3 linked regions of the Homo sapiens genome follow. The protein of the gene in region 3 interacts with the protein of the main gene of each other region in a pairwise test. Each region holds a gene or a part of one and is shown on either strand. Other genes may lie near its edges.

Region 1 (3,669 bases), on a different chromosome or scaffold from region 3:
TTGGCTGGGTCTCCTCCCAGCCCACCCCCCTCCCCTGCTCATCCCTGAGCTGGGGAAGGTGGGCCGCTGCTGCGTGGGACATGGGATGGGATGAGGACTATCATGTTTGTGCTTGGCCAAGCAAGCCGCCTCTGAGCTCCTCTTCACTGCACCCACAGAACGCCGTGCGCCACAACCTCAGCCTGCACAAGTGCTTCGTCCGCGTGGAGAACGTCAAGGGTGCCGTGTGGACTGTGGACGAGCGGGAGTATCAGAAGCGGAGACCGCCAAAGATGACAGGGTATGTGGGTCCAGAGCTGGATGGGCTGTACCTGCCCAGGGGGCAGGAGCCAACTCACCCCCACCCCCTACCTCTCCAGGGTACACATGTGCACCAGATCCTTCCTGGCTGGGGGAAGGGGTGTGGGGAGAAAGGAGCAGAGGAGACTAGTGCTTGGGGACAGGGGGCTGGAATCCGGAAGTGATGGATAATCAGAAGGCAGACATTTATGTCCTCTTCTGTCCTCACTCTGACTGAGGGAAGGGGCCAAGAAGGAGGCCTGGTAGCAAAGAGAGACAGGGGCCCCAAGTAGCCCTGGCCAGAGCTGGCACACAGGCAGATGCCAGCCAACGGGCCATGGGTGAGGGGCTGCCACCCCCAGGGCACCCGCTCTCTCAGCTCATCAGGATGACTAGACCTCTGAGGTCCCGCGACCCCACCAATTCATCTTACGGCAGAGGAGAGCCAGTGAGGGCCAGGGGCTGGCAGGAGGCCCCAGAGCAGATTTGTGGCAGAGCTGGTTCCAGGACCAGGTCTCTGCCCTCCTGGTCTTTTGTGCTCAGCTTCACTTCACCACCTGGCATTTTATTTATTTACTTATTTATTTATTATTTTTTTAATTTTATTATTTTATTCATTTATTTTTTTTGAGAAGGAGTTTTGTTCTTGTTGCCCAGGCTAGAGTGCAATGGCACGATCTCAGCTCACTGGAACCTCCACTTCCCGGGTTCAAGCAATTCTCCTGCCCCAGCCTTTCGGGTAGCTAGAATTACAGGTGCCCACGACCACGCCCGGCTAATTTTTTTTGTATTTAGTAGAAATGTGGTTTCACCACGTTGGTCAGGCTGGTCTCGAATTCCCAACTTCAGGTGATCCACCTGCCTTGGCCTCCCAAAGTGCTAGGATTATAGGCGTGCACCAGCGCACCTGGCCTATTATTTTTTTGAGACAGAGTCTTGCTCTGTTGCCCAGGCTGGAGTGCAGTGGCACGATTTTGGCTCACTGCAACCTCCACCTTGTGGGTTCAAGCGATTCTCCTGCCTTAGCCTCCCGAGAAGCTGAAATTACAGGCGCCCACCACCACACCCAGCTAATTATTTTACTTTTGGTAGAGACGGGGTTTCACCCTGTTGACCAGGCTGATCTCGAACTCCTGACCTCAGGTGATCTGCCCGCATCGGCCTCCCAAAATGCTGGGATTACAGGCGTGAGCTACCGCACCTAGCCTCCACCTGGCAGTTTAAACAGAAACTGAGGAGCCTGGGACAGGGTCAGGACCTCCCTTTGGCTTCCACGTAGCAGCAGTGGCCTTCTCCCGACCTCAAACAGCCCCACCCCAGCCACCTGCTTGCTGTGCCCCTTGGGCCAGAGCCCCTGGGTAAGGAGAGGAGAGCAAGTTAGATGGATGTCTCTGAGGTGTGGGGTGTCTGCTCCCCTCAAAGATGCCTGCTTACCAGGCAGGAGCCTTTGCACCCCAGGCAGTGTGCAGCCTGGAGAATGGAGGGAAGCCATCCCCTGGTGAATGCCTAGGGGCCAGTCTCCAGGCCTGGCTGCGCTTGCACCTCTGCTTCTCACCAGTTTGGTGACCTTTGGCTGTTTCCTTAAGCTCTGTGAGAGCTCTGTGATGGTGTCATCACTGGAAGAGGGACAGCCCCCAGCCACTGCTTTTCCTGTCCCAACTCCCGAACACCTTCCCGTGCAGAGAAGCCTTCTGTATGGAGGCTTCCATACAGAAGCCTCCATGTGGGACAGGCTGAGCATATGTCTGACATGTCCCAAAATCTAGGATGGCAAGACAGTGTGGGCAGACCAGGTGTGTAACTACTGAGACTATAGATTAGACCTTGCCAAACATTGGAAAATCTAGACCGGAGAGAAAACGGGTGGGGGGGCAGCATGCTGTGAAGGCAGACACTGGGGGGATGCCAGTTCCCACTTCCCAGCTCCGAGACCTGGACAGGTCCCTGAACCAAGCCCATCGCACCCACCTGTGAAGGGGCTGCTCCTGCAGGGCCAGTTGAGCGTGAAGACCGAATCAGACCAAGTACACACACAGCTCCAAGACAGCGGCTGATCCGCCCTGGCCTCCCGGAATAGGGAATGGGACCCATTCCCAGCACAGGCCGTTACTTAGTGAGAGTAAAGAGATGCGAATGAAGAGCTAAGTGAATGAGTGAGCCAAAGATGGCCTTCTCTGTCCTCCAGGAGCCCCACCCTGGTGAAGAACATGATCTCTGGCCTCAGCTATGGAGCACTTAATGCCAGCTACCAGGTGACCTGCCCAGAGCCCACCCACTCACCTCTACCTCCCGCCCCCTTGCTTTCTCATACAAGAGACCCCCATCCTCCCCTGCAGAGGACTCACCAGAGGAGGGAAGGAGGGTGAAGACCCAAACTCTCCGAGACCCCACCTCTCTGCCCCACCCCAACTCGGGGCCAGCCTCCACCTCTGCTTTCAAGGCTGGGTTCAGACAAGGCAGGCAGCTGGGAGGATGGCATACCTATAGCATCCCCTTTCCTGGTTTGTCAGTCTGGGGGTTCTCTGTTCCCTGGGAGAGGGGATAAGCCAGGCCCAGGTTCCAGGAAAGCTAGGAGGTAGGAGGTCGGGGGGTCAGAGTTCCAGCCATGGGGGAGGGGTGCTACATTCAAAGGCTGAGTTGGGGCTTGGGGGTTGCCCAGACAGATCCGCCCGTGGGGCCAGTAGGCAGACACACAGGCAGCTCTCTAGTGGGCGGGGAAGGCACAGCACTTGACTGAGTGTGCCCCATCCTGTGGAGCCACTGACGAGGCCCAACCCTGTGCCCCTGCAGGCCGCCCTGGCCGAGAGCAGCTTCCCCCTCCTCAACAGCCCTGGCATGCTGAACCCTGGCTCCGCCAGCAGCCTGCTGCCCCTCAGCCACGATGACGTGGGTGCCCCCGTGGAGCCGCTGCCCAGCAACGGCAGCAGCAGCCCTCCTCGCCTCTCCCCGCCCCAGTACAGGTGAGCACACAGCACGGACCCCCACCCACCCCAGCACCCCTCAACCACCAGGGAGGAGGCGTCATCCCCCACCCTGGGTGGGGTTCCCCATCCCACCCCCACCACGCCTCTCCCCAGGACAAGTGGCTTCTCTCTTCCTTCCCTCAGCCCTCTCAGCCCTCCCTTGTCCCACCTGCCTGTTCTTATCCCCTCTCCCCACCTCCCCACCTTCCCACCTTCTCCTCCCCATTTTCCCCCTTTCTTATTTTTCCTCCTCCTCTCTTCTCTTTTTTTTTTTTTTTTTTAAGACGGAGTCTCGCTCTGTCACCCAGGCTGGAGTGTAATGGCAAGATCTTGGCTCACTGCAACCTCTGCCTCCTGGGTTCAAGTGATTCTCCTGCCTCAGCCTCCCAAGTAGCTGGAATTATAGGTGCCTGCCACCATGCCCAGC
Region 2 (3,620 bases), on a different chromosome or scaffold from region 3:
CTTGCCTGTTTTTTTCCACTAATATGGGTCTGGAACAGATCCCTAATATCCTAAAAAGCATTTTCTTGGAAGCTACTTACCTATCTCTGACACATTCCCCTAAACCATGGCTGGATGCTGTGGGTGTGACTGATATTCAGAGGCAAAACAAAAAAAGACAATAAAGCAAAAAAGTCATAAAGTTAAAAAGAGTAATCATGTTTTCCCCTGGCATTTTTTAATGTTCAGAATTTATAATGTCAAATTGTATCAGAATAAAAACACGAAAACATGAGATAAGTGTGTGGGGAAGCAATTTGGAACCTGAAGACAGTTTTTAATGGAATGCATTTGACAAGCAGCCTCCATCTTTACATTTGAGTATGGTCTGGTTTATGAATCCCAAATCCCTAAGAAAATAATTTTAAACAAATTGTGGGACATGTGTATACAAATTTATGACTTGGCTCTGGCATGGAAGAATGGTCTCTCCGAAAGAATAAAATCCTATTGGTTATAAATGGGTCAAAAAGAATTAGATTTTTTTATTTATACTTCAGAAATGTAATCAAGTGAATGAAATGGTTTCATATACATTTTTACATCCAACAGCAGTGACACACTGTTCATACATTAATTCTATAGTAAAATGTACATCCTTCTTTTTTGCTAAGTAAGATATGCCAAGTGTTCATGGACAAAAAAACCTTTCGTTGCAACCTGAACTAGTGAAATAACAAGGGTAAGCCATGTTCCTTTCAATAGCTTTATAGACTTAATAAAGCTATTGTCCAAATGTGTGTTAATACTGGCATGTGTAAGATGAAGTCTCAAAATTCTCAAAAATGTAAATGTCCAACTTGAAAACTTTACAAAATATCATATTGGATTTTGCGACTGAATCTGCCCAGGGACATTAAAGTCCAGGATGGTTTATGTAAGTGTACTTCTGTAGCTCTATTCCTAGCTGACTATTCTTCGATTCCCTAATCACAAAGAAATGCATTCTTATGAAGTTAAGCAGCTGTAGACACAGAATGCTGATGACATTTTCTCCATATCTGAGTTATCTAAAGAAAACCCAGTTAGTGGTAATTCTACCAAATACTTGTAACATTCACATAAAATTTTAATTGATTTTCAAATAGTACAACTGTGCCACGAATCCAACCACATAGAATATAAGCCTTAAGCCCACTAGGTTTAAGCAATTGTGTCTTTGTAGACTAAAACTATGTAAAATAAAATCTGATAACTCCCTGGTGTTAGAGGTAGACAGTTTTCTTTCAAATCCTAGGTTTGGTCCTTTATTTTATTCAGCAGTGAAAGCCATGAATACAGAACGAATAACAGCTGTTACAATTCTCAACCATGACTTCTAACGTCAGAGAATTCAAAGTATGAACATAGTACACAGTAATGAAAAGTATCAAAAATTAGTTTACCTCAAAAAAGATAAATAAAACAGGTATATTCCACCAATACATAAACAGATGTTTGTGCTACAGTTTAAAATTTGCTGTATACAAAAGATCATAGTCCCCATAATCAGCTTATGATAGAAGCAAGAATACATGAGCCATTTAAATTGTCAGACATTATGCTTTATAAGGTATGCACAGAAGTTCAAGCAATAAATACATACATTAGTTCAAAGCCTTACAATAGCTACGCAAAGCAGATGCAGAAAAGCAGATTTGCTATTACTAGCAAGCAATGATATAAGAGTAAAAATTCATGAAATGCATTAAAGCAACATTTTTCTTAGAAAAAGTCTGGTCATTTATGGGTCCACCAACATTTTTACATAATATGCACAATTATCAAAATACAGACCAAGCATTTCAGGAAACTCCAAAAAACCTAAAATCTATTTTCAAAGCAATTGCAGTTTTGGAGGTTTTTCTGGTATAATGTGCAAGCAGCTATTTTTTAAAATTGTATTCATATAAAACCCATGCAAAACTCTACAGGTATATGCATTCTGTGGCTGAGACTTCCTTTCAAAAGTTTTCTAACTGAGGTATGCATACTTTAGCATTGTAGTCTTAGGCCACCCTTCTGATGGTACAACTCTCGCAGTTACTTCCAGTCCCTCAAAGCCTTTTGAACATGCACCTGAAAGACCCATTTTTCCTTTCAGATAATCCTTACAGTAGGATCCTAGATGACTGAAAACCATCTTTCACCATACCCATCTTTCTTTTAATACCATATTGTAAACTTCCGGTTCGTTGATCATGACCCAAAGACAAACATAATGAAAAGTAGCAGTTACTGTGACGTTCTCACGTTTCATGCAATCTGCCATAATTGTTCTAATGTTTTTCTTTTTTTTTTTTTCTTTTTTTTTTTTTGCAGAGGTAGAAGCTTTCAGAAAGCCTTTTGGGTAAGTGGGAAAACCCTTTTGAAAGCCGTTATGTCCTTTTATTTGGTGTGATAGATGACTGGGTATCTCTCTAACTCTATTTGCTGACTTCAGCAAAGAATCAATGATGAGCTTAGTTTGCAAGAACCGGTTCCATCACATGGAACGGGAACGTATGTTAAGCTCTAGCAGCCACCTTCTGTCAAAACTGTTTGTAAAGCAATAACCATAATCAGGTTATGAGGTCCCTTGGTTGGGGGAAAAAGTATTATCAAGACTTGGCACAGCACATGAAAAGCAACATGTTAAGTTTCTAGGTTTTAAGCAAACATCTGACTATGCTATTTTCAACTACATCATAACTCATTATCATAGTTTTGGGGTTTGGAATTGTCAAGAAAACCAGCATTCCAACAATTTGGCCTGTGCAAGTCTTTGAAGGGAGTGTATTGTTAGTGTTAATATCCCGTATAAGCAGAGGCAGAATTATATGTAACTTTGGTTTGACTGAAAATAAATACCATGGACTACAATTGCTATAATCTTTGCTTTCAGTGTAAAAACTCAGCTAGATCACTTTAAAATCAATATGAAATTAATTTTTGGCTTTACTAGACCTTTTATGTTTGGTTCCTACTTTTTGTTTTTTCATTATAACTTAAGACTATAAAAAAATAGTACACAACAAAGATTAAGACCATACAAGACATCTTCTAACAACATGTATTCACCACTGAAAATAACTGACTGAATGAGGGAAAACAAAAACACAAAGTACTATATATATAACAATATGCAATCTGCATTTGCATCAAGTACATAATCGTTTTGGTCAGTGATCCACATTTGTTGCTTTCTAGCATATCATAACTTCCACTGCGGATTTTGTCCTCACCTCTGTCTTTAATGAAAGCAAATCTTCATTGCATTTAGATGGACTTTTGGCCTCAGAAGATTACTCTGTGACTGAATTAACATTTTTTAGTTGTGGTTTTTGTCATATTTGTTTCTTTGTTTAGGGCTAAATGAAAAGATCCCAGAGGTCATCAGAAAACAGCAGGTAGTTCATGGAAAAGGTTCCTTTGTACTAATTGAAGTTACAGAAGGCTGACCAAAGCATGTGGCTGCTTCTGTCCTTGAGCTCTTGGCCATGGTTAGAGTTGGCTTTGGTTTGCAGCTGTAGCCTTTGACTGTGTTTGCAGGTAGACAAAGCTTTATCACAAGGAGGTAAAGAGTACAGTTGTAAGATCTATGCAGATATGCAAATGTTTCT
Region 3 (3,669 bases):
GTATCCTGATACAGCCTTTCTCTTGGCTCCCTATTAGTAAAAAACACCATAATAATATCTTTTTTAAAGCCTACATTATTTCATTACTTTATACAAGCCATCTCTCAACAAAGGCAAATTACAATTGACCCTTGAGCAACATGGGTTTGAACTGCAGGGGTCCACTTGGACACGTATGTTTTTCTGTGTGCCTGCCTCTCCAACCTCCTTCTACCTCTTCCAATCGTGCCACCTGAGACAGCAAGATCAACCTCTCTCCTCTTCCTCCTCAGCCTACTCAACTTGAAGACAATGAGGATGATCTATTTCCACCTAATGAATCGTAAATATATTTTCTCTCCCATATGATTCTCTTGATAACATTTTCTCTAGCTAACTTTATTATAAAAATACAGTATGTAGCATATAAAATATGTGTTAATCAACTGTTATCAGCAAGGCTTCCAGTCAACAGTAGGCTACTAGTAGTTAGCTTTTTAGGGAGTCAAAAGTAATACATGAATTTTTGACTGTGCAGGGGGGCTCAGTGAAGAGTAGGCTACTAGTACTTAACTTTTTAGGGAGTCAAAAGTTATACACAAATTTGTGACTGTGCAGGGGGGATCAGAGCCCAACCACTGCATTGTACAACGGTCATCTGTAATTACAAATATAGTTATCTGTTTAATCTGTCATAAAAATATAGTTATTTGTTTAATGTGTCATGAAATTAGAAAAGAAAAAATGAAATATAGGTATTTGCTTTGAACTGACTGGTATTCCTGAATCTGACAACAGTCAATTAATATTCCAGGAAATGTGATGTTTCTACATAAATCACTTTGTGCAACAAAATCATATTAAATTCTGTGGTGAGAGTCACCAATGATGAGAAAATAAATATAAGACAATAAACTAATAATCTAAATATTACTGTAACAGAAACTGAAGAACTTTTCAACAACTCCACCTTATAGAGAGTGACACTTAAGTACTTTTCACTTTTTTATTTTATTGTTTTATTTTTGTTTTTTTAAGACAGGGCCTTGCTCTGTCACCCATGCTAGAGTTTTGTAATCACGGTATCTCCCCTGCCAGGTAAGTATCCATGCTGGAGTTCTGTTTTGAGGAGAGGTCTTGCTCTGTTGCCCAAGCTGGAGTGCAGTGGCACGATCATAGCTCACTGCAGCCTCGATCCTCCTCCTGGGTAGCTGGGACTGCAGGCACGTGCCACCATGCCTGGCTGGTTTTTATTTTTTAGTTTTTGTAGAGGTCTCACTATGTTGCCCAGGCTGGTCTCAAACTCTTGGGCTCCACCAATCTTCCCGCCTCAGCCTTCCTGAGTGCTGTAAGTGCTGGGATTACAGGTGCCACTGTGCCTGGCCCCCTTTTCACTTTCCTGATGGCACTGTTTGCAATGCAAAAGTTTTTAATTTTGATGTAGTCCAGTTTATTTATTTATTTTTCCTTTTCTTCCCTGTGCGTTTGGTATCTTACCTAAGAAACTGCCTAACATAAGGCCATTAAGATTTAGGCCTATGTTTTCTTCTAAGAGTTTTATATTGTTAGCTCTTACATTTAGGTCTATGGCTCATTTTGAGTTAATTGTTGTGTTTGGTGTCAAGCAGAAGTCCACCTTCATTCCACTCCAAGTATTCTCTCCCTTTTCCGGTTTTTTTTCTTTCTTTTGGGGACAATTTGTGAAAGCTATCTTTCTTAAGGTATTTTTAAAACCTGCTTTATGTTGGAAGTCAGAAACACAGAAAGTTGACAGAATATTATAACAATTACACTTGTTAATGCATGTAGATTTGGTCTACCTGAATGATCAAACTGTCCAGCATGTCTTTCTATGTGTGTTGGTATGCCTAAAAGAGACCAGAAATAATAAACTGTGTACTTCAACCCCACTGATCATCTCATCAGAAATAATCGTGGAAAAAACAGCTCCCTAGAAAACAGTCTAAATTTTTGTCAAATAATTGAACTTACTACTTTAGCAACTGTTTTCTATTTTGACCTTGTATCAATACAAGTTTAGTTGAGGTATCAACTAAATCTGAGATATTTTTATTACTTAGAAACAGTAATAAATTATTACTAGAAATAAATTATTACTACTATTATTACTAGAAATAGTAATAATTACTATTTCTATACAAATAGAAATAGTAATAAATAATAGTAATAAATAGCAGTAATATATTATTACTATATTCTATATAAATAGAAAATAAATTATTTTCCAACCTAGAAAACAAAATATGTTCCCATATTCTCAGGCACACTAAAAGAACACTGTATCCTTGTTTGCCTATAGAGAAATATTGTTATATAGGCTATTAAGTGAATGTACCTTTTTTTTAGATCGAGGTCTGGGCTGTTCCTCATATTCTTCGCCAAAAACAGGTGGTAATAAAAATTCATTTTCCATATCAAGCTCCTCAGCAGCTGACAACCAAATCAGAACTTTTATTTTAAATGAAATAGCACAGGGTTACATAAACACAGCCAACAAAGAACTAACCACAGGATGTAAACCAGCATTCATACATGGGGACAATCTAGGCTGGGCTGGGGAGTAAATGACTCATTGTACCTAACATGGTTTGTGAATTCTGACAAACACTGTTCAAACTCCTAAAAACATATATAAAATGAATATCAACATAAAATTTTCATGAAAATGTATGATACCAGAAAAATTATTATAGTCTGAAATCCAATTACAAGATCTAAATGGTCTTGGTACAAATCTGATTCAATCTATTAAATGTTTTTTCCAAAAACTAATGTTTTACATTCTACTCAGTGTGCTCATTAGCCATCCATGGATTAAGAAAATAATGAAAAATGGGGCACACTTATTTTACAAAAGACCTGAAAATAATTTTTCCTTTGAAGGTGAACTTAATTTTCAAAGGATCTTAAAAAAAAGCTAACTATATATATTATATATATAAAAACTATATAATATATATAAAATATATATTATATATAAAATTATATTTATATTATATATTGTATATATTTATATATTATATACATCATGATGTATATAATATATAAAATTATATTTATGTATTATATATATTATATATTTTTTATATATATATATTTTTTGAGACAGAGTTTTGCTCTTGTTGCCTAGGTTGGAGTGCAATGGTGCAGTCTTGGCTCACTGCAACCTCCGCCTCCTGAGTTCAAGCAATTCTGCCTCAGCCTCCCCAGTAGCTGGGATTACAGGCACTCACCACCACGCCCAGCTAATTTTTGTATTTTCAGTAGAGACGGGGTTTCACGACGTTGGCCAGGCTGGTCTCAAACTCCTGACCTCAGGTGATCCACCCACCTCGGCCTCCCAAAGTGCTGGGATTACAGGCATAAGCCACCGCACCCAGATGCTAACAACATTTTTAAATTAAAAAGGACACAAACACTTCTTTAAACTTTCTATAATGAATTACTTCTAGAATTTTTTTTTTTTTTTTTTTTTTTAAAGACAGGGTCTCACTCTGCTGCCCAAGCTGGAGTGCAGTAGCACAATCTCGGCTCACTGCAACCTCTACCTCCTGGGCTCAAGCAATCCTCCTGCCTCAGCCTCCCGAGTAGCTGGGATTACAGGCATGCACCACCACGCCTGGCTAATTTTTATATTTTTAGTAGAGACAGTGTTTCACCACATTGCCC

The links. The genes of interacting proteins can lie anywhere in the genome.
Region 1: the proteins of ZMYM2 (region 3) and FOXP4 come close enough for resonance energy transfer, tested with the Homo sapiens proteins (one study listed by BioGRID).
Region 2: the proteins of ZMYM2 (region 3) and FOXP2 come close enough for resonance energy transfer, tested with the Homo sapiens proteins (one study listed by BioGRID).

The regions. Positions count from the first base shown.
Region 1 is NC_000006.12:41,594,712-41,598,380, forward strand, and holds part of FOXP4 (forkhead box protein P4), read left to right. Parts: intron 1-158; coding exon 159-280; intron 281-2,464; coding exon 2,465-2,531; intron 2,532-3,069; coding exon 3,070-3,239; intron 3,240-3,669. UniProt on the Homo sapiens protein: Transcriptional repressor that represses lung-specific expression.
Region 2 is NC_000007.14:114,690,646-114,694,265, reverse strand, and holds the end of FOXP2 (forkhead box protein P2), read right to left. Parts: 3' UTR 501-3,620; downstream 1-500. UniProt on the Homo sapiens protein: Transcriptional repressor that may play a role in the specification and differentiation of lung epithelium. May also play a role in developing neural, gastrointestinal and cardiovascular tissues.
Region 3 is NC_000013.11:20,063,212-20,066,880, reverse strand, and holds part of ZMYM2 (zinc finger MYM-type protein 2), read right to left. Parts: intron 2,431-3,669; coding exon 2,336-2,430; intron 31-2,335; coding exon 1-30. UniProt on the Homo sapiens protein: Involved in the negative regulation of transcription.